Linked DNA regions of Homo sapiens: regions 2, 3 and 4 are each linked to region 1. The links come from fine-mapping of genetic effects on gene expression. A gene starts in region 1. Each other region holds a variant in brackets. All regions are shown on one strand. Distances are from middle to middle.

What was found. PIP is the estimated chance that this variant, and not a neighbour inherited with it, causes the effect. A credible set is the group of variants that fine-mapping cannot tell apart.
Region 2: its variant is the best candidate, but not a certain one, in a credible set for the expression of LINC00539 in whole blood (INTERVAL, PIP 0.67).
Region 3: its variant is the best candidate, but not a certain one, in a credible set for the expression of LINC00539 in whole blood (INTERVAL, PIP 0.74).
Region 4: its variant is the best candidate, but not a certain one, in a credible set for the expression of LINC00539 in whole blood (INTERVAL, PIP 0.64).

The regions. Positions count from the first base shown.
Region 1 is chr13:21,341,060-21,348,884 of GRCh38, forward strand. It overlaps LINC00539 (long intergenic non-protein coding RNA 539), which reads right to left and starts at 3,800. Exons shown (of 3, transcript NR_103841.1): 1 at 3,607-3,800. It also overlaps the pseudogene MIPEPP3. RefSeq lists an enhancer at 1,149-1,652 and a silencer at 5,538-5,741.
Region 2 is chr13:21,316,763-21,323,986 of GRCh38, forward strand. All of the region lies in intron 2 of LINC00539 (long intergenic non-protein coding RNA 539), which reads right to left. It also overlaps the pseudogene MIPEPP3 and the pseudogene GRK6P1. Among named protein-coding and RNA genes, the nearest start is that of LINC00539, 24 kb to the right of the region's middle. The variant A/G (reference allele first, on the strand shown) is at 5,516.
Region 3 is chr13:21,307,929-21,315,753 of GRCh38, forward strand. The region is part of intron 2 of LINC00539 (long intergenic non-protein coding RNA 539); the gene reads right to left. It also overlaps the pseudogene MIPEPP3. Among named protein-coding and RNA genes, the nearest start is that of LINC00539, 33 kb to the right of the region's middle. The variant A/G (reference allele first, on the strand shown) is at 3,136.
Region 4 is chr13:21,325,160-21,332,984 of GRCh38, forward strand. LINC00539 (long intergenic non-protein coding RNA 539) reads right to left here. Exons shown (of 3, transcript NR_103841.1): 2 at 5,415-5,499. It also overlaps the pseudogene MIPEPP3. Among named protein-coding and RNA genes, the nearest start is that of LINC00539, 16 kb to the right of the region's middle. The variant C/T (reference allele first, on the strand shown) is at 2,236.

The DNA of each region.
Region 1 (7,825 bases):
AGAGGATTTTCCTCACCAGAGCTTACAGGAGAACAGACATTCAAGGCTGCTCAAGAAGCAGGTGGCTGCTGTTGTTGTTTTTTGTTTTTTTGTTTTGTTTTGAGACAGAGCCTTGTTCTGTTGTCCAGGCTGGAGTGCAGTGGCGCCATCTCAGCTCACTGCAACCTCTGCCTCCTGGGTTCAAGCGATTCTCCTTCCTCAGCCTCCTGAGTAGCTGGGATCACAGGCGCCCGCCAACACCCCTGGCTAATTTTGGTATTTTAGTAGAGACGGGGTTTCACCGTGTTGGCCAGGCTGGTCTCGAACTCCTGACCTCAAGTGGTCTGTCTGTCTCGGCCTCCCAAAGTGCTGGGATTACAGGCATGAGCCACCGCACCTGGCCCGCCTGCTGTTGTTTGACAATGTTGGGTATTCTTAGGGATCCAACTCTAGTTTTTAGGAAATGAACACAAATATTCATTTTTCACAACAGCCAACAATTATTTCCTTTATAAGTTCACATTCACAACCATTTTCCCACTCTAAAATTGGCACAAATTTGAAAAGCATGATATATAAAACCGGTGAGGATATTGTGAGGTAAACACTCTCATTCACTGATGACGTGAATTTAAACGAGAACAAGCTTTTTAAACAGCAATGGCAAAATGCATTCAGAGTTTAAAGCATCTATTCCATTTGGCTCAATTCTATACATGCACGGAAACAAAGCAAAAAACAAGGAAAATGCAACCCCCGCCCCCTCCCAAATCAAAGAACAAACAGGAGCTTTTTCAGGCCTCAAGTGAAGCAAGGCACGAGTCTCTCTGAGGAATCCCCGCCCATAAGACCTGGGAAGGTCACAGCCTTCACGCTGGCTCAAGGGGTTCTCCCCAGCAGGAACCCAGGCTGCTCCTCCCGGGACTGTGGCTGACAGGTAGGGAGCGCTCATAAGTCATAGCGGATATTATCACTACAGGGGTCCCTAACATCTCAGTGAACCCCCACTGTCAGGGAAACTGAGAAACTGTGAATGCAGCCCCAAAGCCTGTGAGAGACCACGTGTGGGCTCAGAGCCTCCCCGTCACCTCAGAAGGCCAGGGAGCCCAGAGGCCAAGCAGGGACTTCGGCAGGACCCGTCCAGTGGACCCCAAGTCGCCCTGTCACTCAGCAACCATACCCCAGCCCCAGGTGGCAGAGGAGGGCAGCCCCTGGGCGGGACAGTCTCGCCAGGCCACCAAGGCTCCTCAGCGCTTAGGCCCCTCGCATGATCCCACAGTCAGTTCACCCTCAAGCTCTCCATGGTCCCAAGTCCTCTGTCCTCAGCCTTCTCTACTGGGCTCATTTCAGGTAATTTGTTTTTGTTTTGTTTTCCCTTCTCATTTTCTTGCTCCCTCTGAGAGACTAATGTTCTAACAAAGATGTGCTGCTGGAACGAGGCATTAATTTCAATAGTCACCTAAAAGCAATTGCCTAGGAAATATCTCATTTTCCCATTAAACGCCGCAGAGGAGAAGCCTCGGGTGACTCCTCTCTCCCGCTCCCTGGCCCCCTCCTTCTCTGTTCTCCACCCCCTCCCCTCTTCCAAAAACTCGTTACAACCTGGACACTATTTCCACTCCCTGTTCTAAAATGCTGCCCTGGGCAGATAGATGAGCCCACTTGGCCTCTGGCCAGCACATGCCCCACAGGTAATTTTGTGGAAATCAAGCTGGGACAGAAGGGGTGTCTTTTTGGGAGCACAGGCAGGTGGCTCAGCTTGGTTCTCTGGGCTGGGGGCAGGGGCAGGCAGGAGGAGCAGGTGGGTCCCCCGAGGTCTCCTTTTGACGATGGGATGTAGCCTATGGGAGGGATGTGTTTCCAGGTCCTCCCTGGCCTTGTGAGACATCCCCACAGAGGCCCCTGTCAGGGGAAGCTGTGATCAGGGGTCAGAGCCTGGCACACATGTCACTGTTGACTTGAAAAAGTTGATTGAGCAAGAGAAGGGGTCTCAGTCCTCCCCTAGGCTCCCCTGTGTCTCCGTGGGGTGCCCAGGCCCTGACCACCCCCAACCGAGGCAGGCTCTTCTCTTGCACTCTGTTACCTTGACAAGCTGTCATCTGACCTCCCTCCAAAAAAAATTCATGATAACCTTCTCCCAGGGCTAATAATAATTATTATTCTATTTTTAATAATTAATATGATAATGTAATTAATATATAATTATTACATATAATAATATAAGTAAATATTAATAACTATAATATAATTAATAATTATTATTATTAAAAACAGCTGTTTGAAAGCCTTTTGATGTGAGACAGACATCCCTAGCTGTGTTTCAGCAGTACTTGTCAATCTCTGTATGCGTAGGTACCATTATCACCACCACAGTCCCCAGTTCACAGAGGAGGAGCTGAGGCCCTCAGAGGCTCCATAATGTCCCCTAAAGCCACACAATCTTGGCCCAAGATTTGCTTGGCCCAGGGGCCTGGACGCTTGATCTCATAGATGGTCTGTCCATGTAGCTTGCAACACTCAAGAAGTCCCTCTCCAGTGAGGGAGCTCTGAACCCTGGCAGTGAGGCCTCTCAGTGAGGGGGCTTCTGAGCCCTGGCAGTGAGAAGCTCTCTGTGACCAGGGGACCCACCCTGCAACCTCCCCACCATTCCATAGCTGCCAGCACCTGTGCCCACTTCGAAGCTTAACCCTGAATGATAAGAGAGACCAGGAGCCAACAGCTTTACGTACGTTACTAATGAGCCTCAGAACAAACTCACAAAAAAATCTTATTCCTACTTCACAAACAAGAAGTTGAGGATCAGAGAGGTTAACTCAAATGACAAAGTCACACAGCTTTTAAGTCCCCTGCTCTTGGCACCAGACTCAGCAGCTTTGATGTGTTTGTTCTCTTCCTCCCTGTTTTTATTGAGGGCTTCTGAGGTGCCCTCCTTCTCCATCTCCTCCCTTCTCCTTCTTCTCCTCCTCCCCCTCCCCCCCGCCTCCTCCTCCTCTTCCTTCTTCTTCTCCTCTCCCTCTCCTCCTCCTTCTCCTTCTCCTCCTTCTCCTTCTCCTTTCTCTTTTTTAAATTTAAGAGATGGGGTCCCACTCTGTCACCCAAGCTGGAGTGCAATGGAATGATCACAGCTCACTGCAGCCTCAACCTCCCAGGCTCAAGCAGTCCTCCCACCTCAGCCTCCAGAGTAGCTGGGAATATAGGCACACCTCACTACACCTAGCTAATTTTTAAATTTTTTTGTAGAGACAGGGTCTTTCTGTGTTGCCCAAGCTGGTCTTGAACTCCTGGGTTCAAGTGATCTGCTCCCCCTCAGCCTCCCAAAGTGCTAGGATTACAGGACTGAGCCACCATGCCCGGCCAAGTCACCCTTCTTGAACTTTGATTCACCAAGCTCTTCAGTCCAATTTTACACAAGTGTGAACTCAGGTGTGTGCTTGTGATTCTTTGTTCACACACAGCCAAGTTGGCACAAGAAGGTGAAACAGAGAAAGGCCTCAGTGTTTTTGGCCAAGCCCACAGAAGGCCACCTAAGCAGGCTGGATGCTGCCCAGGGCTGGGCCACAGCGTGTCCTTTGTAAGTCAGCCATCCCAGCCCCCGAACCCCACACACACACAAAGACACACACTTACCCCAGGAGCAGCCCCACAGTGCAAAGGAGCCCACACAGCGGCTAATGGCTGCTCAGGTTTGTGTGATCTGTCTGGGTTCAGGCACAACCTCCAGGGGCCTCTGGCCCAGGTTGCATCTTTCCTGCAGAGCAGAAAAAGCACAGTTAAGAAAACCCCAAGAAGGCAGTCAGTTTCCTCCCTTGAGTTTCTGGGGTGGACTTCCGGCAGAGTTTTTGGAGGACTGACTGTTGCAGTTAAACAATGTGTCTGGCAAGAAGCGAGACTTCCTCCCTTCCTGCTGCCTGGCTCATGGGGCTGCAGCCTCCTTCTGGAGGTGGCAAGAAAGAACTGTGGAGTCCGCGATCTAAGGGATCCCTGGCAGCCCACGGCAGCCAGAGAACCACATCCGCTGGAGAACTCTAGGTTCTCTACGGCCTCTTGTTACTGCCAGTGCTTGTGTGGCTTGAGGTGGGTAATGCGGCAGCCTCCTGCAGCTAGCCCAGGACTGGGCAGCATGGGGCCAGGTAGTTAGTGTAGGAGAGTGAGCCCAAGCTTGGAAAGCAAGACTTGGCTCTGTCACTGGGCAACCGGGCAACCTTTTTTTGGTTTGGTTTTGTTTTGTTGTTTTTGAGACAGAGTCTTGCTCTATTGCCCAGGCTGGAGTGCAGTGGCATGCTCAAGTCCTGCCTCCCTGGTTCAAGCGATTCTCCTGCCTCAGCCTCCTGAGTAGCTGGGACTACGGGCATGTGCCACCACGCCTGGCTGATTTTTATATTTTTTATTGACGGGGTTTTGTCATGTTGGCCAGGCTGTCCTCAAACTCCTCCCCTCAAGTAATCTGCCCTCCTCGGCCTCCCAAGTGCTGGGATTACAGGCATGAGCCACTGCGCCCAGCCTGGGCAACCTTGAAGAAGTTACTTAGCTTCTCTGAGCCTCAGTTTCCTCATCTGTATAATGGAAGCAATAGTGTCCGTTTTGCAGGGCTAGTATGCCTGGTAAATGAGAATCCTCATAAGAGCCTAGAAATAATAGTGTCATAATGCAGGTGGTTCTACTATTACCAGTGACTAGTATTTGTTGAACACTGACCATAGACTAAGTTTTGTACTGAGCGTTTTATATTTATTGTCCCATTTAGTCCTCCAAAAAATCTAATGAGATATGACCATCCCCAGCTTACAAATAAGAAAACTGAAACTCAAAAAGACCAGCAAGTGACCCCAGAGAACTGCACAAGGATCTGCAGAGAGTGAGCAACAGGAGCCGAAGCCGTGGGCTCATACCAGGCTCTCTTCCTGCCTCTTAAGCCCATGGCACATTTGGAGGGTGCTACCTGAATTGAATGGGTGTGCCTGTTGTTTTGAAGTTGGGGTCTACGGCCATACCACCCTGAACGTGCCGGATCTCGTCTGAAGTTGAGGATAGGCATCATCTTTCACTTCAAAATGAAGAAACGGAGGCATTGGGAGGTTAAGTCACACATAGCCAGCAAGTGGCAGAGAGTGAAAGGAACCAGCATTGATGAGCGCCTACTGTATGCCAAACACTGTGCTTACTTCAAGATCCTGTGATCTGCTGGGTGGTTTTGGAGATGTTGGAGTTTCATTGACTTCCTACACTGCCCTGAAGAGGTCTTATTAGTATTAGCCCCATTTTACAGAGAAGGGAACTGAAGCTCCGTGCATGTAATTAGACTCCGAAGGCTGTTGATGGATGGGGAAGGAGAGGGTCCCTCTCTGCTTTTAAGGAATGCATGGACAGTTATGATTCTGGCCTGAGAAGGAAATGGAAGGGGCTCTGTGCCCGTCCCACATATCCTGCCCCACACCCAGGGCCTCATGGATCCCACCAGGGGAGGCTCCTGGCTTCCCAACAGAGGAAGGCATCACTTCAGAAAGGGCTGTCCCCTCAGGCCTTCTGTAGGTGGCCGGTGGGGTCTAAGTGTGTGTGCCCTTCACTCCCCGCTTCATTCCCCTCATCCTCCCTGTGCTCCTGTAATGCCCACTGGACCACTGGAGAGCCCCCGCAGACGGCAAACAGCAGCAGAGCACACAACCAGCCCTCTCAGGTCTAGTAAAAGTGAGCTTCCTACAGAAATGCACAGGGGACTGAGATGAGAGTCGAGCAGGCCTGGAAGGATCCCGGGGAACAAACAATGCTGCAGGGAAGATGGAGGCCCCCTCGGCAAGCCGTCCTTTCTGGCCCCCGAGGAGCCCTGGGGTGGACCCTGGTCACTGTCTTGAACATGTGACTCTAGTCTTTTTCCTCATTTTCAATATCAGTAAAATGAACTTAAGCATGTGTTCCACAATGCGAAGGTTTATTGATTTATAAATTCTATAAATGTGCTACTGAGCTAATAAATGCATCACAAATGACATAAAAGTTGATATTTTACTAGGATAATAGGAAATCACAACTAGAATTTCTGATATCTTCTTCCTACGCCCCCAGCATTTTGTGGTGTGCCCCCTCTGGGCCTTGGGAAAGTGATACAGAGCCTGCAGAGCCTGGTACTATGCTAGGGTCTGGCTGTAATGGGACACTGCCCTTTCCTGCAAGAGGCCATTGAGCAAGGCATTTGGCACAGGCTTTGGGGTCAGACAGAAGTGGGTTCTGATCTCATCTCTGCCTCTGAGGAGCAGTGTGGCCTGGGCAATGACTTACCACCTGGAGCCTCCATTTCCTCATCACAAAATGGGGGAGATAATCTTCCTGTGCAGAGGTGATGAGATGATGACTGCAAAGACACAGCACGGTGCGTGCCACAGAGGAGGTGGGGTTCAGTCGATAGTCCTGAATCCTCCTGCTTACCAACGAGCTCCCGGTTCCCACCCATGCCAGGGAGGTCAGTAGGCAGCCTGGGTGCCTGAAGGTCCGTCCTAAGGATGAAGTCTAAATGGGGAGAACGGATGACTTGGGAGAGACGTCCCCACAGCTCCTCCTTGGCTCTGGGCACAGCCTTTCCCATGAGTGGTAAGTCGCGTTCCTATGGCTCCAGGTAGAATTCCACAAAAGGAAACATACACATACACAATCTTTATTTCATCCCTCTTCTGGCGTCCTCCCAGTTCTACTCACCCGTTTGTGAGTCCCTTTGATGACTTAGAAAGCACAGTAGAGCCAGCATAATCATTCTGCAGTGGTAGAATCTATTTTTGGCCTGGAATAGCCCCATGGACAGGAGACCTGTACTGTCCCCCATTAAGGGGACTCCCCATCCTATGCCATTTATCAGGACTGACACAGCCCTCATGAGGCCGCCAAAGAGACAGGACACCTCCCAAGCCACAGCTGCAGCCCGGAGAGGGAAACATACAAGCTCCCCACCTGGAGGCAGCCTCTTCCTGAGTGAGTGGCAGGCTGCCCCGCCATCAAGTTGTCAGAGTCATTCATCCAGGGCAGCATGGAGGAAGCCGCTGTTGACCGCTTCGCCCACGCCCCGGAGTGGCTCTGAGGCGCTCCTGTGGCCTGGGACAGAATGTTTCTGTGAACAGCAGCCCATGGCCAGGCAAGCACAGAACATCTCCCCTGGAAGACCTGCATTCAAAGGGCCACCAAATTAAACTCCCACTTCACACTGAGGGGGGGAAAGTGATAAGTAATGGGGCACGGGGTGCAGAGAGATTGGGCCTACAGGTGGAGGAGGCCTGCAGTGCTTCTCTGGGAGGGGCAGCCTGCTCCCCTGGGAACCAAGCCACTGTTCTCTCCAACACCCTTACCCCAGAGGACTCTGTGTCTGAGCTTTCTGAGCAATTATCAGCTTCCACTGCAGCTGCAGCAGGCACGTTGTTGGAGAGCCCAGCTGGGTTCAAGGACTCTTCCCTGGTGCAAGCCTGGATTGCAAAGACCATGCATGTGGGGGCTAGGATAGATGCCCTATAATTAGCCATGCACCCTAGTTATTCCCTCCCACACCTCTTTCCTGCCCTCCCCTCCTTTTCCCCTCAGAAGTGAAGGTGCTCATAGCGGTCATCAATGCCCTTACAGAGCATTTAGCTCTAAGTTGCATCATCTTTAACTTTCCCCAGGCCCCACCTGTGGGTCTCCACACCAGCCATTGTGAGGACAGGATGAATTCATTTGCAGAGGACAAGCACAAAATCTCTGGTAAAAAACAAACACAATGTACCATAGTAAATGGGAGCAGCTTTAAAAAAAGTACAAAATCCATTGGGGACCCCGTTGCCATAGGAACTGGCATTACAGCTTGCTTCCGATAATTAATGGAGGGTTTTGC
Region 2 (7,224 bases), 25 kb before region 1:
GTTCTTTTCCATTGTTCTATGTGTCTGTTTTTATGCCAGTACATGTTATTTTGGTTACTATAACTTTGTAATATATTTTGAAATCAGAGCGGGTAATGCCTCCAGCTTTGTTCTTCTTGCTCAAGATTGCTTTGGCTACTTGGGTGTTTTGTAGTTCCATATGATTTTTTTTTTTTTTTTTTTTTTTTTGACAGAGTCTTGCTCTGTGGCCCAGGCTGGAGTGCAGTCCAGCAATCTCGGCTCACAGCAACCTCTGCCTCCCAGGTTCAAGTGATTCTCCTGCCTCAGCCCCCCAAGTAGTTGGGATTACAGGCATCTGCCACCATGCCCAGCTAACTTTTCTATTTTTAGCAGAGGTGGGGTTTTACCATGTTTGCCAGGCTGGTCTCAAACTCCTGACCTCAAGTGAGCCACCCACTTTGGCCTCCCAAAATGCTGGAATTAGAGGTGAGAGCCACTGTACCTGGCTGCATATGAATTTTAGAGTAGTTTTTTCTATTTCTGTAAAGGACATCATTGGGATTTTGATAGGGATTGCTTTGCATCTGTAAATCAGTTTGGGTAGTTTAGACATTTCAACAATATTAATTATTTCAGTCAACATGGGTATCTTTCCACTTATCTGTATCTTCTTTAACTTCCTTCATTGTTGTTACAATTTCCGTGTACAAGTGTTTCATCTCTTTGGTTAAATTTATTTTTAAGTATTCTCATCTTTTTTGTGAATGGGATTATTTTCTTGATTTCCTTGTCAGCTAACTGTTTATGTATAGAAATGCACCTGATTTGCATATATTGATTTTATATCCTGCAACTTTACTGAATGTATTTATTAGCTGTAACAGTTTTTGGTTGAGTCTTTAGGGGGTTCTATGTATATAACCATATCATCCATTTCAAATAGGGATAATTTTACTTCTTCCTTTCCAACTTGGATGTCTTTCTTTTTCTTGTCTCATTGTTCTGGCTATGATTTCTAGCACTATGTTGAATAGAAGTGGTGAGCGTGGACATCCTTGCCTTGTGCCAGATCTTAGAGGGAAAGCTTTCAGTTTTTCCCCATTGATTTTGACGTTAGCTGCTATCACACTATTTTTTAATGTTCACCTCTGGTTCCCCTTTGTCACAGAACCTTCCCAAATGACCCATACAGCAGGCCCCTTTTTCTGAATGTCCATAAAATTCATCTTCTGTAACCTTCATTTGACACATCTTTTACGTCATCCTGTATTGTTCCTAAGTCAAATGTGAAGTCTGAAAGGTGTGAACCACATCTCGCCATCTGGGAGTAGACAGCATGAGCAGAGGAGAAAGACAGGGTCAGAAGCCAAAAGGCTGATGAGTTAATGGGTGCAGCACACCAACATGGCACATGTATACATATGCCATACAAACCTGCACGTTGTGCACATGTACCCTAAAACTTAAAGTATAATAATAATAAAATAAAAGAAAAATACGGAAAAAAAAAAAAGAAGCCAAAAGGCTGCACTTCAGTCCCACCCAACTGGGAGACATCAGGCAAGTTCCTGAACTTCCATGACCTTCATTTTCTCCACAAAATGGGGTAAATCCACAACTCTAAACCTAGCCATTATAAAAATAAAAAGCAACATAACAGTAAAAACAACTCAATTAAAAATGGACAAAGAACTTAAATAGACATCTCTCCAAAGATGATATACAAATGGCCGATAAGCACATGAAAAGATGCTCAACATCGCCAATCATTAGGGAAATGCAAATGAAAACTACAATGAGATACCTTTTCACACCCATTAGAATGACTATTATGGAAAAAAAAAGAACCAGAAAGAAAACCCAGAAAATAACAAGTGTGGACAAGGACGTGGAGAAATTGGAACACTTTCACATTGCTGGTGGGTATGTAAAATAGTAAAATGATGAAGCTACTGTAGAAAAAAAGTTACAGCAATTCCTCAAAAAAATTAAACATGGAATTACTGTATGATCCAGCAGTCCCACTTCTGGAAATTATCTCCCGAAATTGAAAGCAGGATCTCAGGCAGATCCTTTTACACTCATGTTCATAGTAGCAGTATTCACAATAGGCAAAAGATGGAAGCAACCCAAGTGTTCATCAACCGATGATGAATAAACAAAATGTGGCCTAGCCATAGAATGGAATATTACTGAGCCTTTAAAGGGAAGGAAATTCCAACACATACTATACCACACGGATGGCCCTTGAGAACATTATGCTCGGTGAAATAAGCCCGTCACAAAAGGACAAACGCAGGCGATGGCTGGGGAGGCGGGGCGGGAGAGGTGGGGGAGTGGGTGGCAGCCGCCGCGCTGGGAGCCGAGCAGAGCCGCGCCGATCGCCATCCGGCCTGGGCACTCGCGCGCGATCCCGGCCGGCAGCGCGGCCCATGGAGCTCGAGAACATCGTAGCGGACACGGTGCTCCTCAAGGCCCGGGAAGGTAGCGGTGGAAATCGCAAAGGCAAAAGCAAGAAATGGCGGCAGATGCTCCAGTTCCCCCACATCAGCCAGTGCGAAGAGCTGCGGCTCAGTCTCGAACGTGACTATCACAGCCTGTGCGAGCGGCAGCCCATCGGGCGCCTGCTGTTCTGAGAGTTCTGTGCCACCAGGCCGGAGCTGAGCCGTTGCATCGCCTTCCAGGATGGGATGGCCGAGTATGAAGCGACCCCGGATGAGAAGCGGAAGGCATGTGGGCGGCGGCTAATGCAGAATTTTCTTGAGCCACAGGTTCCTGACCTCATCCCTGAGGTCCCCCCGGCAGCTGGTGACGAACTGCACCCAGCGGCTGGAGCAGGGGCCCTGCAAAGAACTCTCCCAGGAACTCACCCGGGTGACCCACGGGTACCTGAGCATGGCCCCTTTTGCCGACTACCTCAACAGCATCTACTTCAACCGTTTCCTGCAGTGGAAGTGGCTGGAAAGGCAGCCAGTGACCAAAAATACCTTCAGGCAGTACCGAGTCCTGGGCAAAGGTGGCTTTGGGGAGGTGTGCGCCTGCCAGGTGCGGGCCACAGGCAAGATGTACGCCTTCAAGAAGCTAGAAAAAAAGCGGATCAAGAAGCAGAAAGGGGAGGCCATGGCGCTGAACGAGAAGCAGATCCTGGAGAGAGTGAACAGTAGGTTTATAGTGAGCTTGGCCTACACCTGTGAGACCAAGGAGGCGCTGTGCCTGGTGCTGACGCTGATGAACGGGGGCGACCTCAATTTCCACATCTGCCACATGGGCCGGGCTGGCTTCCCCGAAGCGCAGGCCGTCTTCTACGTCCCGAGATCTGCTTGCGGTCTGGAGGACCTGCACCGGGAGCGCATAGTGTACAGGGACCTGAAGCCAGGAACATCTTGCTGGATGACCACGGCCACATCCTCGTCTCCGACCTGGGACTGGCTGTGCACGTGCCCGAGGGCCAGACCATCAAAGGCCGTGTGGGCACCGTGAGCTACATGGCTCCAGAGGTGGTGAAGAATGAACCGTACACTTTCAGCTCTGACTGTTGGGCGCTAGGCTGCCTCCCGCAGGAGATGATTGCAGGCCAGTCGCTCTTCCAGCAGAGGAAGAAGATGATCAAGCGGGAGGAGGTGGAGCGGCTGGTGAAGGAGGACCCCGAGGAGTATTCCGAGCGCTTTTCCCCGCAGGCCTGCTCACAGCTCCTCTGCAAGGACCCCGCTGAACGCCTGGGGTGTCGTGGGGGCAGTGCCCGCGAAGTGAAGGAGCACCCCCTGTTGAAGAAGCTGAACTTCAAGCGGGTGGGAGCCGGCATGCTGGAGCCGCCCTTCAAGCCTGACCCTCGGGCCATTTACTGCAAGGATATTCTGGACATTAAACAGTTCTCTAGGGTCAAGGGTGTGGAGCTGGAGGCTACCGACCAAGACTTCTACCAGAAGTTTGCCACAGGCAGTGTGCCCATCCCCTGGCAGAAGGGGATGGTGGAGACTGAGTGCTTCCAGGAGCTGAATGTCTTTGGGCTGGATGGCTCAGTTCCCCCAGACCTGGACTGGAAGGGCCAGCCACCTGCAAGGGACTGCTGCAGAGACTCTTCAGTCGCCAAAGGATTGCTGTGGAAACTGCGGGGACAGCGAGGAAGAGCTCCCTACCCGCCTCTAGCCCCCAGCCAGAGGCCCCCACGGGCAGTGGGCGGTAGTAGCTACTCCGAGTGCCTTTTACAGTTTTGCACAGTGGACTTCCCCATTGTCCACTCAAGTTGTGGCCTGGGGAACACAGACGGAACTGTCCCCAGTGTCCTCTGCCCCCTCAGCCCCTGGCCTGCCTGAGTTTGGCAGGGCCTGGGCCATCCCTGGGACAAAGGTGCGTCCCTTCAGCTCTTCTCCGTGGAGCTCGGGGCTTTCTGTATTTATGTATTTGTACCAATGTATATAGTGACCAGGGCATTCTTAGTTCCTGCCACAGACCTGGCGCCCCCTCCTTGGCTCCTGGGGGCAGCCAGCCCTGGCTGGGAGAGCGGGAGCTGGCAGAGGAGCCACTGCCAAACTTAAGGCTCCTCCGACCCAGCTTGGATGGCTGAGGATCACACCCCTGAGCCTTCAGCACGGTGCTGACCACCCCTAGCCTCTGAGTAAGACTTGTGCCTGCCCCTGCTGCCCTGGACTCAGGCTTCTGCCCTCTGGGGACTAAAGCTGTCCCTTCTCAGTACTTGTCAGAGCTGGATCTGGGGCCTGTATATCCCCTAGGCCTGTGCCAAAGTGGCCAGAGATTGGGCCGGCTGTGAGACCCATCAGCCCACTGCCCCGGCCGGCCCAGATAGGTCTGCCTCTACCTTCCAGCTCCCAGGGCCTGGTCCCTGATGCTTTCAGGGACGTTTCAGAAACGCCCGAGCCCAGCCCCTAGGAGGGGGTGGGGCATCCCTGGCCAACCCTCAAACATTCCCAACTCCTCTCATAACACTAGACACATGTGCCCAGCAAAAAAAAAAAGGACAAATGCTTCGTGATTTCACTTATATGAGGCACCTAAAGTAGTGAAATTCATAGAGACAGAAAGTAGAATGTTGGTTGTCGGGAGCTGGGGGCAGTGGGGAATAGGGAGATATTGTTTAATGAGGGCAGAGTTTCAGTTGGGGAAGATAAAAATGTTCTGAAGATGGATGGTGTGGATGGTGGTGATGGCTGTGCCATACATAATGTGAAAGTACTTAATGTTCTTGAACTGTGCACTTAAAATGGTTAAATGGTAAATTTTATGTTATGTATATTTTGCTGCAAAAACCCACTTATACAATATAAGGTGACATTATTCCTGATATTTTCTTACCTCTCCCCCTCATACACCCACCCCTACTGCTGTGCATATTCCAGATTTTGATAAACACTTGCTAAACCAATGCTGTCCTCACAGAACATACCCTCCTCTCCTCTTCCTCCCCTGCCCATCTGCATAGACGTGTAGTTGGCCAGCTTACCTGAATAGATCTTTTAAATCAAACCAGTCTAAATATTTGTAATGTGACAAAACATAAAAAGGGATGGAGAAAGCGAGGGAGAGACGGGTGTGCCTC[A/G]TGCATTCATGGATTTGTATTTATACTCCAATGATCTTGTTATTTTTAAAGTCTGCTAAAGCTGGTTCCACCTGCAGGTTTCTTTTGGTGTCCTAAATCTGTGTGTGCATTCTCCACATGCTTGGAGTCAGCGTACATGAGCTGTTTGTCCCCCAGCTGGCTTTTTGCAGTGGAAGAGGCGCAAACAGAATCCGCAGCACGTAGGACAGGGAGCCTGAAATCCCACGCCGCACAGCACTCAGTGTGTGCAGGAGCTGAGGGAAGCAATAAGACCTAATAACCTCATCCATTCTCCTAATTGCTTTCTTCTCCTCACAGAGGAGCCACATCAGCAGCTCTGGTGACCCTCAGGGAAATCTCTGCTTGTTATGAGGTTGGTGGGCCATCCTTTCATCACTGTGAAATGCTGGCAGTTTGTGTCAACAAATCGAATTTCAGTCAATCAATAGGCACCCCGCCTCTCAGCTTGGCAGAGCTGCACAGCTGGCCTTCCTTCCCTCCCATCTGCTGCCCATGCCCTGGAGCCCTGGCAGCAAGAACCACTGCTGCCCGTGGCGTGGGAGAATGCCCAGGCAGCCAGGTCAGACTGGATGTGGCAGACAGCAATTGACAAGGCTGGTTCCACCACCAGAGAGTCACAGCCCACTGGAAACACACCATGTTGTACAGGGTGGAAGCGCCAGCTTTGTGCAGATGGACTTGGGTACAGGTCTGATTCTGCCACTTTGGGCTGTATGGCCTTGAACTTCAAGGCAAGTTCTTCACCTCTTTGAACTCTACCTTCCTTAGTTATAAAGCGGGGATGCTACTGCTGCCTGCTGCAGGATTGTTAGGAAAAGTGTTATAATGCATGCAAAGTGCTTTGTCCAGTCCCTGGCACACAGTAGAGAGAGAGAGAGAGAGAGAGTGTGTGTGTGTGTATGTCACTGTGATCTGCCAAGTCTTACAAGCCAAATAGGGCAATAAATGGCAACTACTGCGGATTTTACAATCATCATTAGCATCATCATCATTATTATTGTCATGTTGAGTGTTGCACAGAAAACAGCCTAGAACCAGCCTACGTGGTTCTATCAATGCAGGATGAGAATATTCAGCCTCCAGTTCATGAAGGTTCACTAAGCAGAGATGTACACTGGATGATCACCAGCGTGTACAAAAAATAAATACTATAGTATCTTCATCAGAGGGCTGCCATTGGCCTCAGGAGGGCATTCCCAGGTAGAAGTGCCTCAGGAGGTTTGTTCTGTTGCCTGGCCCAACATCCTATAGGGAAGGAGCCCAATAGTGGCTCCTTGAAATTTCTGCATTCTCTGGAAGCCAGAAAAAGCAAAGACCTCCTGGCAATTGAGTTCTCTTGCTTGTAGGGGAGATCACAGCTTCGTAGATAGACGGCTGTTTCCCTTTGGGTGATAGAGGTCCCTGCTGGGCAACAAAGAATTAAACACAAATCTATTTCTTGCCAGTAGTTGTCACACCTAATAGATTGGGATGAGATACCACTGCATTAGTGTGTGAATTTCCCCAGATGAAGGCAGCAGCAAAGCCCTTTAGAACAAGCCACAGAAGGACAGAAACAAACTAATCAGGGAATGCACAGCTTCACACAAGATCCAGGGGCTTCTGACATGGGAGGAACACAAAAGTTTTAACTAACCAAGGATGCAAACATTCCCCCAGCAAGAAATGGTTAGAAGTATCTTGGAGTG
Region 3 (7,825 bases), 33 kb before region 1:
CTGAGGAACAGGAGTATCCTTGAGTCTCTGAGTAGGAACTGGTGGGTGGTTCTTACAAGAAAGAGATGAATCTGAACTATAAGGAAGCTTATAATAGAGTTATTTTCTATTACTTTTTCCTCATCTAGTTTTCTTTTGACATTTTAGACCATTAGGACATCTTGACCAAGCTCTAGGGGAAAGGGGTAGAGAGGAAAAAGAAAAGAGTAAAGCCTCTTGGTACAGACTATGTTTGAAGTTTCGTTCCTCAAACGTGTGAACTTGTGCACGCAATACAGCAAGGGAGACACGGGAATGATAAAGAAGGATAAGACGTGAAAGATACAGTCTAACTGCTAATATTGTTTCGTGTATGTACCTTTTAATAAGAGTAAAGCTTCCCAGCTAAATTGGGTTGGGGCTCTCGGTGGAATTTCCGATATCAGCTAGTACAAGAGAAAGTGGAGCCAGGGGTGGGTGGGCTGGGAATGGCATTCAGCCAGGCTGGGGACTTGCTGGAAAGGCAAATTCTCAGGCTGTATTCCAGGAGTACTCGGGACTGGTCCCAGTGCTGTTTTAACCAACGCTCCAGGTGATTCTGAGCACTCGCTAGTTGGAGAACCACTGGGTTAGGGAGCTAAGGTCTCTCAACGCTGCTTGAGAAGGGCTGCCACAACCGCCAGTGAAGGAGATGGGTTGAGTGATTGCCCAGGGGCACTGGGCTGGTACCAGGAAGGGTGTGGATTTGAGGCCAAGCCTTCCAATTCTAAGTCCAGGGACTTTTATACTCTGCCAAATAATACTAGAAACAAACAAAATCTCCTGTCTCACCCAACCTTTTAAATTTAACATGTGAATTAACTTAGCTCCATAAAAACAATAAACTACACTTGGGTCTTTAATATAGAAAACAGAACAAACTGTTTAACACCCTGAGAAGATTCAGCTTCCTCACTTGGGCTAATATTGTTAATTTAGTTTTGTTGGGGGAATTAGCCACCTCTTGCTTTGATGGGTTCTATTCTTTCTACCCTGCCCTGCCCAGCATGAGGAATAATCTCTAGTCCCGCAGTGGTGTAGAGCTCTGTCTATTCTGGGATGAGACTGGACTTTCTTGTCTTTTGTTCAGGCAGGAGCAATGGCATTGAAAAGTTGAAAGACAAATAAAGTCAGCAGGAGATAGACTTTTGAGATTCTAGCTTTTGAAGCTAAACAGATTGATCTAAGGAATTCAGTCTTTTTCTGATTCTTTGTATTGTTAACATCATCTTTGCCTGCATGTGAGTGACTTCTGGCCACCGAGGGGCTGCACTTCAGCCTGTGGCCATGTGGGAGGCATTTTCTTCCTTTTGGCTGAAGCTTTGGGTAGGATGGGAGTTAGGGAAGGTGGGGAATGGGTGGCACAACCCTCTGCCTGTAGCATTTAACCCACACAGTGGGCTTGGTGACATCCTAGCGATTTGATGTATTCCACCCCTAGAATCCAACCTTTCCTGTCATTACGGCCAGACATTATACACTCAGGGCATAAATATGCTGCACATAGAAGCTATAGGGAAGCAATTGATACTGGGGAGATCCATTCTGTAATAATTGTGACTTGACCAGTTAGAAATATTACCCAGGGGCAAGCATTCTTAGAAATGTTTGACCATTAAGTTTCTTAAACCATTAAGAACCACCACTTTTTCTTAAATTTCTTTCCCCCCAGTATATATTTTAACACCTTTTAAATTCCCATAGAAAGTGCTAATTCCCTTACTATAAATTGTAAGAGAGGTATACGTAGTGGGTGGGAATAGCTGAAATTTGCCAAATTTATCAAATTTGCTGACCCATTTGAAAGGTGTGGCTTAAAGATGTACTTTTCACTCATGACCAGCTCAGTTGAGTTGGGGAGGTTCTGCCTTTCACCATGGACTCCAAGTTCTTCATTTGGGCTGGGCATGGTGGCTCATGCCTGTAATCCAGCACTTTGGGAGGCCAAGACAGGCAGATCACTCAAGCCCAGGAGTTCAAGGCCAGCTTAGGCAACATGGTGAAACCTCCTCTTTATAAAAAATACAAACATTAGCCGGGAGTGGTGGCATGCGACTGTAGTGTGAGCTACTTTGGCTGAGGTGGGAGGATAGCTTGAGCCTGGGAGGTCAAGGTTGCAGTGAGCTGTGATCACGCTACAGCATTCCAGCCTGGGTGACAAAGTGATACTTCGTCTCAAAAAATAAATAAATAAGTTAAAGTCCTTTTTTGATACTCTGCATCCTGACAGCTAATGATAACAGACATAGAGTGTGGATGATAATTCTGTAGGACACTTTAAGGGCATGATCTGGAAGTGGCTGACATCAATTTTGCCCACATTTTATTATGCAGAACTCCTTACATAGCCTCACTTAGATTAGAAAAAGTTAAAAAAAAAAAAAAGTTTTCCTGGTGCCCAGAGGGAAAATGAAATGTTTTGGTGAACACGTAGAATGGTTTCTGCCATAGGTTTTATGACTCATGAATGGTTAGGAAACATTGCCGTGGGCATTCATGTGTGAAAGGATATGTTTTGCAGAGTATCATGATTTAGTTTGTCAGGCCAGCTGGGTCACAGAGGAGTTGTTAGAATGGAGTCAGAGTGGTAGCGTATTTCTCTAAAACAATCTTGAAAGATTCTGATTTCTCTAGGAGATCTCTCCAGCAAGATTTGTGGGGCTTAGCATTCTGTGTTCTCCCAACATCTTTCATCACTAAAACTCTGGAGGAGAAAAAAATATCAGGAAGATTCCAAGTACTTGCCGCTCTCTGGGTGAGAATAACTACCTTGAGGAACATGAAGAAGACATCTTTCGCAGTATTTTTTCTACAGTTTTGGAGGGCAGGGCGTGGGTCTAGAGTTACCTCAAACTTGAAAGTGAGAATTGAACCATGCTTCTGACAGCACCGCCTAAAGGAAGTGAGGTGTTGTAACTTGGTTACTTGGCATTTGGTATTTGTCGCTGTTTGTTCCATAAAAAGTTTTGGAAGTGTTGGTAGATGTAGCTAACATTTGGTCTACTGCTATAAAGGATGTCGAGACCTCCAGTCAGATTTGTGGTTTTCCATTACCTGGGTACCACAGGAAGTCCTCACCTGAGGGGACTACTTACAGGATGACTTTTGTCCTTCACA[A/G]GATGCATCCTCACATCCCCTCATTGCCTTCAGCCCACTAGTTAAGGTCCATTATCTGCAAAACCCCAGAGAAGGAAATGAAGTCCCATTGCAAAGGCAGTTGATGAAAGCTCTTCACCAAGTATTTGATGACTGGTTTACTCATCAGGAGTTGAAGGGCCTAATTCTTACCAGGAGAAGTCAGAGAAACACATAGGGGGCAGATCTTGAGAGTTTTGGGTCAGGAGGTTTGGGTATTATACATAAGATTGACTAGGGAAGGTCTACTGACTCTATCCTATAATTCACTGTCCTCAAAAGGACAATTGTGCCTATCCTAATAATGCTGGTCAGAGGTTTCTTGAAGCTTGGATAAGATGACAGCCTTATCATCTTTCCCTGGGGGAAAGATGCCATATTTGCCATGGCATGGTATTGAGGAAGGAGTCAGACAGTCCAGGGAGGTTTTATTATGCAAGACCAGAGACCCTGATCTTGTTCCCTGTGAGGCCAAGAGGACATGCCCTTTATACAAAAACAAGAAACTCACTGGTGAGGGGCCACCAGCATTGTTGGGAATCTCACTAGTGATTGTCTTCCGTGGTCTATGGTTCACAGTAGAAAATGCTGCCACAGAACTGACCTCTCTAATATTACTGAAGATGAAGATATTTTGGAGTAGCAGAGGCCAAGTCGCAGCATTTGCCATCAAAGTGAATATGACTACCACAAAGTGAATATGACTACCATATGGCAGCAAGGCCAACGTGCCAGCCAGGGTCCTGTACACATAGGGCATTTCTAGAAGAAAGATGGGTGAGTACCCACTGTGAATATTTCTTGACTTGTGTAACCAGAAAAAATATTAAGAGAAGGTAAGCTGAAATCTGATGTCTGCTGCCAAAAAGAAAAATGATAATCCCTCACCTAGCTCCCAGATTTGAGTCAGTTCTCGGGCCCCTGGCCTAGTGATTGAAGGGGAGGCCGGGCCCCCTTGAAAAAAAAACCCTGCAGTGCCACAAACCTTCCCCCAAAGGGACCTGTGTAACTTTACACTAAGAAAATGGAAATATACAGATTTTTCAGGGTATACAGGGTCTAACCTTACAATGACATCAGCAGAACCTGAAATGCCACGATGACAGCTAGTTAGAATGGGCTATTATGGAGGCGGGTGATAAATGGAGTTCTTGTCAAGGCAGGCTCAGCAGTGATGATGAGGGTGTTAGGGCTCACCCTGTCTTTGCTTCCTCAGTTCCAGTGTGCTCAATTGGAAAGGATAGACTGAGCAGCTGGTAGAGCCCTCACGTTTTGTTTCCTGACCTGTGAAATAAGAACCAGGAAGGAAGAAACAAATGGAAACCCAGAAAGTGCCCATTCCCACCAAAGATAGAAAATCAAAGCGATACCCTATTCCAGTGGAATGGCTGAGATCGATGCCACTCCCAAGAACTTAGCAAATGCAGGGGTGGTCATCCTCATCATATCCCCATTCAATCCATCTACATGGTCTCTGCAAAAAACAGATGGATTTTCGTGAATAACAGCAGACTACCGGAACGTTATCTAAGTTGCGTCCCAATTGTATGTAGCTACCTAATTGGATGTGGTATCTTTACTGGAACAGAGCAGCACAGCCTTTGGTTCCTGGGTTGTGGCTATCCATCTGGCAAACAAGTCATCTTCCAACCTCCTCAGGAAGGATGGTCAAGATCAGTTCTGTCTCATTAAGAAAGGATTTGAGTACACATTCACTGTCTTTCCCCAAGGCTATATGTATTCTCTTTCTCTCTGTCACCTTGACATATCATGCTGGTATACTATGTTGTTGACATTATGCTAATTGGACTTGGTGAACAGAAAGTGGCCGGTACTCTGGATGTCATAGTAAAACACATGAAGGTGAAACATAAATCATTTACAGTATCAAAGTCCTGCCATATTGATGAAGATTTTAGGAGTCCCATGGTTTGCAGCATCCTAAGGTAAACAATTACCCCTATGAAAAGTTATATGGTTTGGTGGGCGACTTTGGATTTTAGGAGGCAGCCAATATTGCACTTGAGATTATTTCTTTGACTCATTTCTTGGGTCATTAGAAGTCTACCAGTTTTGAGTGGAACCCAAAGCATAAGAAAACTGAAGAAATTCTAGGCTTCAGGACAACATACTCTGCTGTTGAGGCCATATAATTCAACAGATCCAACAGTGCTCGGGGTATCCATGGTAGGAAAGGATGCTATAGGAAATCTTGGACAAACCCTAATAGATTTGCAGTACAGAATGGGTAGGGTTCTGGAGAAAGGCATGTCTACTCCATTCAAGAGACTATTTATTGTTTAATTACTCACTACTCAGAAAAACAGCTTCTGATGTGATAAGGGGTCAAGAGAGATCAAGCACCTGAAAGTGGGACATCAAGTGATTATATGATAGGAGTTTCCTATTACGAGCTGGACATTGTCAGATCCAACAAGGTGGTAAGGTATGATGGAAATGGTATATTCAGGACCAGATCTGAGCAAGTCCAGAGGGTATAGGGTGGCCCAGGGCTCCATGTCACCTACCTCTGCTGTCCTGACATGTCTCTCAGCTCACATCTATAAATATGGGGGCAGGAGTGAGGGAACTCTATGATTCACTGATGAAGGAGGAACAACACAGCTCATTCCTGGTTCATGGATAGATTGGTTCAGATACTCAATGCTGCCTGAGAATGGGCAGCTGTCAACACTACCACCCAACTCAGTGGTGGCCCTAAAGGACAGTGATGAGGGGAAACCCTCCTAGAGGGTAGAGCTGTGAGCAGTATTCTTGTTTGTCCACTTTGTATGCCAGAAGTGGTATGAGATAAGGATATATATGGACTTCCATGTAGTGGCAAATAACTTGGCTGGTCTTGGTCTGGGGTTTAGAAGGGGCAAGTTTAGATGATCAGAGACAAAGTGGTCTGGGAAGAAGCATGTAGATGAACTGTTGAAAGTGGCCACAAAATGTGCAGATCTTTGTGTCTCACATCATTGCCACTAGAGAAGATTTGGCACAGACAGGACACTCACTAAGCAGGTAGACAGAGGAACCGGCTAACTGGCTGGTAGATGTCAGTCATCTCTGTCCCCAGCCACCCCAATTCTTGTACAATAGATCCTTGAGTGGAGAGTGGCCATAGTGACAGGGAAGGCCATTATTCAAGGCCTCATCCGTCATCCAGCATGCACTCCTTTTCACCAAGACAGTTGGTAAATTTATTATTTATTTATTACCAAATAAATAAATGTATTAGATCTAAAAAATCTATTAGATAGATAAATGTATTAGATACAGGATTTTAGAGCTGACAATGTGAGGTATAATATATAAAAGCTTAGAAAAGCGTAGGGAGACATCTGTCTTTTTCCTTTGCATTGACAGCATGTGCTTGCATCAGCTCTGTGTGTGTGTGTGTGTGTGTGTGTGTGTGTGTGTGGACTGTAGAAAGAAATCACTACATCCAGACTGTGCTATAGTATTTTTTCTCTTATTGGTAGGGGCTAAATCAGTCTCCCCTCCCCGTGCAAGAAAGAGATGTTGAAATCTTAACTCTCAGTACCTCAGAACTGACTTCATTAGGAAACAGGATTGTTGCAAATGTATACTTAAATTAAGATGAGGTCATACTGGAGTAGGGTGGGCCCTGGTCTGACATGACTGATGTCCTTACAGAAAGACAGCCACGGGCTGGGCACGGTGGCTCACGCCTGTAATCCCAACACTTTGGGAGGCCAAGGTGAGTGAATCATGAGGTCAGGAGTTTGAGACCAGCCTGGCTAAGATGGTGAAACCCAGTCTCTACTAAAAATACAAAAAAATTAGTTGGGCACGGTGGCAGGCACTTGTAATCCCAGCTACTCGGGAGGCTGAGGCAAGAGAATCACCTGAACCTGGGAGGCAGAGGTTGCAGCAAGCCGAGATTGCACCACTGCACTCTAGCCAGGGCAACAGAGCAAGACTCTGTCTTAAAAAAAACAAAAAACAAACAAAAACAAGAAAAGAAAAGAATGAAAGACAGCCCTGTGAAAACAGAGACACACACAGGGAGAATGCCATGTGACAACAGAGGCAGAGACTGAGGTTATGCAGCTGCAAGCCAAGAAATGCCAAAGATTACCCACAAACCACCAGAAGCTAGCAGAGGCATGGAATCCCCTACAGGTTTCAGAGGGAACATGGTCATGCCAACACCTTGATTTTGGACTTCCAGCCTCCAGAACTGTGAGAAATTAAATTTCTGTTGTTTTAAGCCACCCAATTTGAAGTACTTTCATTATGGCAACCCTAAGAAGCTAATACATTTATATAAAATATTTCACACTATTCTTTCTTTCCAACATTATTGAGGTATAGTTGACAATTAAAAATTGTATATATTTAAGGTGTACAATTCAGTGATTCAATATATGTGTATGTTGTAAACTGTCCACAACAATCAAGCAAATTAATGCGTTCATCACCTCACATCATTATCATTTTTTGATTTGGTGAGAACACTTAACAGCTAACTTCTTGGCAAATTTCAAGTCTGCAATATTATTAACTGTAGTCACATTGTTGTACGTAGTTCTCCAGACCTTATTTACCTTACATAACAGACCTCGCTCATACCCTTTGACCAACATCTTCCCATATCCCTCCCCACTCAGCCTCTGGTAACGACTATTCTACTCTCTGTTTC
Region 4 (7,825 bases), 16 kb before region 1:
TTCTACCTATCTTTATACATCAACCCTTAACCGGACTCTCTGATTGCAATCTCACTCTCCTCTACCCATCACTGGTTTCAGAGAGATTTTTCTGAAATCCAAATTTGACCTTGGCACTCCTTGCTTACCACCTTCAATCACCCACCAGCATTGATGTGAAGGTTTTTTTTATGTGATTAACATTTAAATCAGTAAACTTTGAGTAAAGCAAATGACCCTTCATAATGTGGGTGGGCCTCATTCAATCAGTAAAAGGCTTTAAGAGAAAAGACTGAGGTCCCCTGAAGAAGTGGGAATTCTGCCTCCAAATTGCCTTCAGACTTGAGCTGCAACATCAGCTCTTCTGTGGGTCTGCAGATTTTGAACTTGCCAGCCCCACAATCACATGATCCACTTTCTTAACTCTCTCTCTCTCTGTGTATCTGTGTGTGTGTGTATGTGTATACATAGCATATACATAACATATACATACATAAACATATGTATTTCCTGTTGGTCCTGCTTCTTTGACTAGCCTTGACTAACAGAACCATCAGACCCAGGCTACTCCATCCTGTGGCTCCACAATCCATAATATGTTAACTCTGGGTCAGAGCTGGCTGCTTGGGCACCAGACATGGTAGCTCCATTCCAGACAGCTGGAGAGAGGAAGGGACCTAAAAAGACATATTCCCTTATTTTAGGGACACTTCCTGGAAGTAGAACATGACCATCCCATTGGCCAGAACTTAGTCACATCTAGTTGCAAGGGAATTGGGAACATAGTCATGATTCCAGAACCATGCGCCCAGCTAAAAATCAGGAGGTTTTATATCATGGTAGAAAGGGGGAACAGACATGGCGCTACAGCAGGAGACAGTATCTGCTACAAATACCAAACGAAGGGCGCTGGCAATGAGCATTTTAGAGGTTAAGGGGAGATTTAATGCGGGCAGGGTCCGGCAGAGAGGGGCTGCACAGTGCAAGGGGACCGGGGCTGACTTTGAAGGAAGGGCTACTCCGCCCAATTACGAGAACACGTGAGCACCCTTGCCCCAGAGTGAGCATCAACACCGTGATCACGGTTATCACGTGGGAGGTCTGCCCAGGATCCCGGCAGTGAGGCTGCCCTGGAGGCAGGCTTGCTCCGCCACAGGCGCGCAGGCAACAGCAGCGGAGCCGAGAATGGCGAGGCCAGCGGGCGACCAGGCCTCCGGCCAAGGGCACGCGACCCCCCGCGCTTCCCGAGTGCTCCCCTGAAGCCTGGTACGCGTGGGCACCGGCGCACGGCGGTGCCCCGGAAACGCAGCCATCGCCTCAGGGCAGCCACTCACCGATGCGGTAATGCCCCAACGGGGCGTTTCATTGGCCAGCTCTCTTTCAGGCTCCAACTATTTCTTAGATTTTTTTTAAGGAATTGCAAATAGGCCTAAACAAAATCCAGATGCGAGGGAAGGGATGCCTGAACACAGATGGGTGGGAGAACACGCCCCGAGGTGCTGCTTTGGCAGAGAAGCCCTGTCTGCGAGCCCCGAGGCGGAGATGGCTCCCCAAGCCTGATGCAGACAAGAGAGCCCGCCCCTCCCCTGTCCCGCACCTGCTGAACTTTGGGGTCAGCAGAGGAATGTCCCCCGCTGTTAATGTTTTGTTTTTACTGTTTTACAATTCACATTTCGTGCTGCAGGGTGTACCGTGAAGCTACAACAGGGACAGACAGGTTTGTAGGAAGCGGCATTTCCCAAAAGCAACCTCTGAACCTTTTATTCCCGGAGCACATCACAGGTCCAGCGTTCCATAGAACACACCCTAGAAAAACGCTCCTGTGGAGGATCCGTCCCGCCAGGATCCCCAGCTGGTCAGGAATGCTGGGAGGGCCTCCTCACTCGGGCTATTCTCCCTCCCACACATTCATCTGAGGGGACAGGCTCTGGTTAGTTAGAAAATTGTAACATAGCAAGGTAGGAGCAGCAGCCCCTTGTCACCTTAGGCTCCAACTGAGGGTGGGAGGTGGGAGGTGGGGTTGGGCGGTTTGGGGATGGGAAACCTGGCTCTGCCTCCCTTCCTCCCATTTGCACCACAGAGCTGGATCCCAGGTGGCCAGATCCCCTGCAACCGACAATGATTGAGGACCTTCTCAGCGCCAGCTCTTTAGGTGCTGGAGACATATTCTGCACTGAAGGTGCTCCCTGAAAGGACTAAGAAACAGAGAAAGAAGCAGGTCATTGCAATACAGTGTGCTGGGTACAAGAGTCGAGG[C/T]GTAATGTCAGATATGAGAGTGACTCAAGGGAATGATCTTGTTTGGGGGAGGTGGGCAAGCAGGAGGAGCTGTGGCAGAAGGCGATCAGAGAGGATAAAGACAAAGGTATGTGTTCGAGATTGTCAAATGAAAGCCATGCACAGTCCAGGGGCTTCAGGAATATTCTCATCTCAGGGAATCGGATCTGGAATCTGGGAATCAGGCTCTTGTTCTCCTGGGATAAGAGCGAGCCTGGGAGTAAAATGAATCACCAGTGCTCCTGGAGAGGCGTGGGAATCCTGGGCTGGTGCAGGCCCTCCCTGCTATTAATACTGCAGCTCCCAGATTCTGCTTGAAACCATAGAGAGAGCTTTGGTCAGAGGCCAGCAAGCCCCTCAGCCCCAAGCAGGAGTAGGCAAAATGCATGGTAGTGGCCCAGGAGCCTGGGGTGTCAGTGGTGCGGTAGTGTCTTTGTAGTGGTGGCACAGGGCTGAAGTGGTAAGAGGCTGGGAACAAGATGAAGCAGACAAGGTGAAAGGGGATGAAACAGGAGGAAAAGAGAGAGAAGGAGAGGGCAGTCTGCTGCAGTCCCAGTGCCCTGGGGATCAGTAACTTTGCATCCTGGCCCTAGCCCCACTTATTACTGCCTGTGTGACGTTGGGCCAGTCATCTGTGCTCTGGGCCAGCTCCCTTAGCTATAGAATGAGGTGCGGAGAGAAGCTGTGATCTCTACAGCCCCCTCTTCCTCAAGTGGCATGAACACTCTCTTTTTCTGGAAGGTCCCTTACCAACTGCTGGCAACCACTGCGAAGAGCAGTGGGCAGGTGGGTGCAGATGGCAGTGGTGCTGATGAGGGGTTGGGGGTGCTGGCACCTCAGGATAACTCAAAAGCGGTGCAGGCTGAAGCCCTTCCTCCCTCCTTCCTTCTACCTCCTGCCTGCTGAGCCCCCCAGGACCCAGCAGCTAATGTAATCGTCTCCTGGAATGCCCCATAATGGCCCTGCAGCAGTTTCTGCAGGCTCCGCCTCTCTGCAGGCAGCAGTCTGCGAGTTCAGAGGAAAATGAGCTCCCTGCTCTCGGGAAGGTGAAGTCAGCCTAGGACAGCGGCAGGACTGCAGCTCCCTCTGGACAAGGGGCCTGTGCAGCAGACCTCACCAGGTACCTTTCCCCACAGAACCTACACAGAAGCACAAGGTCCTTTGCTCCTTCTTTGATAAGGTGTCCTCTCTCGTGGTTGATTTCAAACTGTGTTGAGCTAAGAACCCTTTCTTTAAATGAAAGGTGTTATGGAAGCCTAAACAACACATTATTCAATAACGATTTCTTGAAATAAGTGTGTGTCAAATGCAGTGTCGAGAACTGGGTACCTGGTGGTAACCCAAACAGACTTTATCTCTGCCTTCATAGAGCTTGCTTTAGTGGGCAAATACAGCCATAAATGAGTAAATATTTACTAACTCTTCATTATGGTCAGTGTCGTGAAGGAAAAAAATGTGGGATGGCCTTTCGGTTGCATTATTAGGAACGATTTCCAGGTCAGGAAGTGATGCTTCTGCACCCAGCAGTACCTGTCAGTGTGAAATCTGGGGTGGAGACCAGGTCAGAGCTTTGGATGGCTGATGACACCCAGGAGGAAGAGGCAGCCTCTACACGCAGGTGGGACAGTGAGCCCCTGCCTTGTGGTCTGTGCTGAGCTTCCCCACAATGCAAGCCAAGGCATCAGCTCCCACCCACACCCCAAGGGACCTGCAGGAAACCAGGCTGCATTTCAACAACAAGCAGAAAGCACAGAGCTTTACACACAATCTAAATACATCAACCATTTGAAGATGCTAAACTCCATACAAGAGCATCACCAGACTCCACAAAAGAAAAAACTTATAACTGAGGAAACCGAGCTAATAGTCAAATCAGAACAGAAACTTATAATCTGTATACTTCGTATTTTGGAGAGATGTGGGTGGGTATCTATATGTCAAATGAGAGGAGATCATTACAATCAAGAGCTGGCAATTATGAAAAGAAACAGTGAAATTCCTGGGAGTGAAAAATATCAGTATTCAAAAATCTTTCTGGCTATAGTGAGGAGAATGAATTGCAAGGAGGTAAGACACACTTTAGCCAGGTAAGAGATGGTCGTGGCTTTGGCTAGGGTGGAGGCAGAGGAAAGGGAGAAGAGTAGATGGATTCAGAATACAGTTTGAAGAGTCAGCAGGACTTGCTAACCTCTTCAGCATTTGAGTGTGAGGATGAGGGAGAAGGAGCCCTCAGGGACGATGTCTGGAATGAACACAGAGCTGCCCCGGTTAAAGATGCTCAGGGATTATAATGCAGGGCCCCTGCAGAGACTGCGAAGGCCTCTTTACCCCTTTCCCTGCATCAAAATGAGGTAGCCCTGCCATCATACAATCCTCAAACTGCACCCTTCTTTCTCCTTATCCTATCCTTACCAGACACCCAGAGGGTTTGAAAGCAAGAGCCAAGCTGCATCCAGCACTGAAGGACCACTCTACTTATTCCTCCCTGATGTCTTCAGGGAGAGTCTGGCTGGTGAGGGAGGGAAATGTGACTGTTACAAGTTGGGTTCCCTTGAAAGCAGACTCTAAGATGGAGTTTTTTGTGTAGAATGCCTATTAAGGGGTCAACACCTGTGTAAAGAGGAGGAAGCAGTATGCAGAAACAGAAATTGAGCCAAGGTCAAAGAGAGCCTTGGTCAGTCCCACAGGTGCAGGGCTTGGAAGCTCAAATGGCCCTTCAGAGTTGTTTTAAGTTGGTCTGAGATGGCCAGATCTTTATGTGTCCACATCAATCAGTTGTTAGATTTGGGTGCCATGGGCAGGGGTGTGACATCAGTAAGGCTGCTCTCTGCAGCCCAGGCAACCTCTGTGTGCCAGCAGCACTCTGCACCACTGGGACTGCAAGTCCTTATTGAGGGGATCTACGTGGCACTTTACAGTGTTCACCATAGTGCCCAAGGCCAAGGTAGCCTCTCACGTGGCTTGAGGTACAGCCTTGTACATACCACGTTGTACCTTGTATGTACCTGGTCTGAGGTCATTCCTAAACATTACTGGGGAAAACCAGAAGTTCAGAAGCAAGGAGAGACCTAATTAAAACCAAGGAGACTATATATTAAGGTAGAAGAGTAAGGAATGGCTTTATATTAATACATAGTCAGCATAAAGCTGAAAACACTCACCCGTGGCAGACGGCATCATCTAGGAAGAATGTCTGGAAATTGATATTCTGCAGTTCAGATTTTACCAGTTCACAACGTAAATATCCTGTTGAGAAAAGCAAGTCTCACTCAGTTGATAAATATAACTCTCTCTGCTGCTTTCATTTCAGTTTCGAAATGACCAGGCTGGCAGTTGGCTGAGCCAGTCTCTTAGAACCCTTTGAAGCACTGGATGCAGGCTGATGAGCTGCCATAAACGTCTTTGAGTCCCAACACTGCTCAGGAACTGCATATCATACCAAAGTCTGCCTGTGTGATCCTTTAATTTGTGAATGTAAAAACTGAGGTGGGAGGCAAATACTGATGTTCTCAAAGACCCGTCTCAGCTATTCCATTCAAACAGAGCCCAGAATCTTCAAAATTCTGCTTCTTCAGCTTACCTCCTGTCTCAGGCTGGTTCCCCAGAAGCATCCCAGAGATGCAGATTTGTGAGAAAGTGATGTGTTGGGCAGTGTCCCCTGCAGGGAAGTGAGGATGCAAGACAGTGAGAAGGAAGCCAAGCAAGAGTGCAATGTCAAGCAAGGTCCCGTGCTTGCAGGGCACTGGCTCCTCCCACAGAGGAGATTTGGAGACTGAGAGCCCCTCCCTCCATTGGTCAAGGGCCATCTCAGAGGGATGCATGTTTCTAGGTATCCCCCACTCTCTCTGCACACAGGTAAAGGAGACTCCAGAAGCATGAGGGCAGCCCTCTCACAAAGAAGCATGGGTTCTGGATACCGAGAGTAAAAGCAAACGTGGAGCCAAGGGGTGTGAAAATGGGAAAGGGACCCAAGGAAATAGAGTAGTGCATCCACCATGAGTAAGTGCCACAGTCACTGGGTCAGCACCTGCTGTGTCCAACACCATGCTAAGTATCGTGGAGAGGAGAGAAGTTACTAGACTTCCCTGCTGTCATCCTTAATGGACTATTGTCTCTTCCCTAGACACCTCAAACTGGGATTTAAGGTACATAAGCTCTCAGAAATGGCTTCCTGGAATTATGGCCATGAACATCAGTGAACTGTTAGGGTCCGTAGTTACATCTGGAAAATGACTGCCGTTTCAATACACAGGATTAGTTACAATAACAGCAACAGCCATAATAATAATGTGGCAGAGACTAGCTTGATGCTCATCACATCTCTACCTGGGCACATAGCAAAGTTTTCTATTCCAGCTCCCACCCTGGATCTCGGGTCCTAGTTCTCAACAACGAAATGCTTCCAAGCCAAGTTAAAGCAGCCACAACTTTCAAACGAAAACCTAAAGATCCTGTGTTGAAGACAGTGGCACCTTAAAATGCAAGGGCAGTATCCTTGAGTCCTCAGGTCACCAGAAAGCCACCCGATCAGGACCATCGACACTAGACTCTGTGTTAGTGAGAAACAAACTTGTGTTAAGCCATCATGATTTTAAAGTTGTTAGCAGTCAGCTTGCTCCAATAGGATGAACACTAATAAACATAGCGGTAACAACCTGCTGGGTAGTATCATTATTCTCACTTTGTTGGTGAGGAACTTGAGGCCCAAAATGGTCAGAAAGTTAGCAGATGGCAGAGCTGGTATTTCAAGTCTATTTTTTAATCCCTATCTTGCACTCCTTGGTCACGTAAACCTTGTGTGAATATGTTTGATGCTTTAATGGAGCAAAGAGGAGAATATTAAAATACCAGGTTTCTTGGGTGGGATGTGGAGTGAGGAGGAAGAACACAAAACGGAAAGGCTCCACGCATCAGAAGCCAAGCTTTGGGCACTCCACAGTTTTGCTAAAGACTTCCCTGTCTGCTCACATCTGGTCTGTTCCCCAGTATCCTCACTGTATTAAAGTTGTTTCTTTGTCATATTTTGCTCTTTTTTCTGGTGTGATTCTATCAATTACTTGCTACCAAGGAGAAGAAATGAGATGATCAAAGGGGCATCCCCCAAATCCCCAAGGCTGTGCCCCTCAAGTTCAAGAAGAGAAAGCAGAGAACTCTTGTTTAACATGGACGTGTTAGTCGCTGTCCCCTCTGCCATCCCCCAACTTCGTTGTTCATAGAACTCTGATTTTGTTCATCTTATTCCAAGTTACCAAGTCCTTTAGGGAAGGCTAGGCTGCCCTCTTACCCAGGACTGAGAGTTCATGGTTGAAGCTAGAGAGGACGGAGTGATTTCCCCTGCTAAACAATTGGTTCAGGCATGTGACGCAATTGGGCCAATGGAGCTAAAAAAGGAAATCTGCTGATGGGGCTTCTGGGAAGGTTTCTCTTGGAAAAAAAAAGAAAAAGCCACAAGATAAAAATGTTTGCTTTTCTGCCTCTGGACTTGGGCTCTGTGTGTTGTTCCTGGAACCAAAGCACCTTGGGTCCATTAAGACAGCAGCCTATGAGGATAAACCAGAACACTGGGGATGGC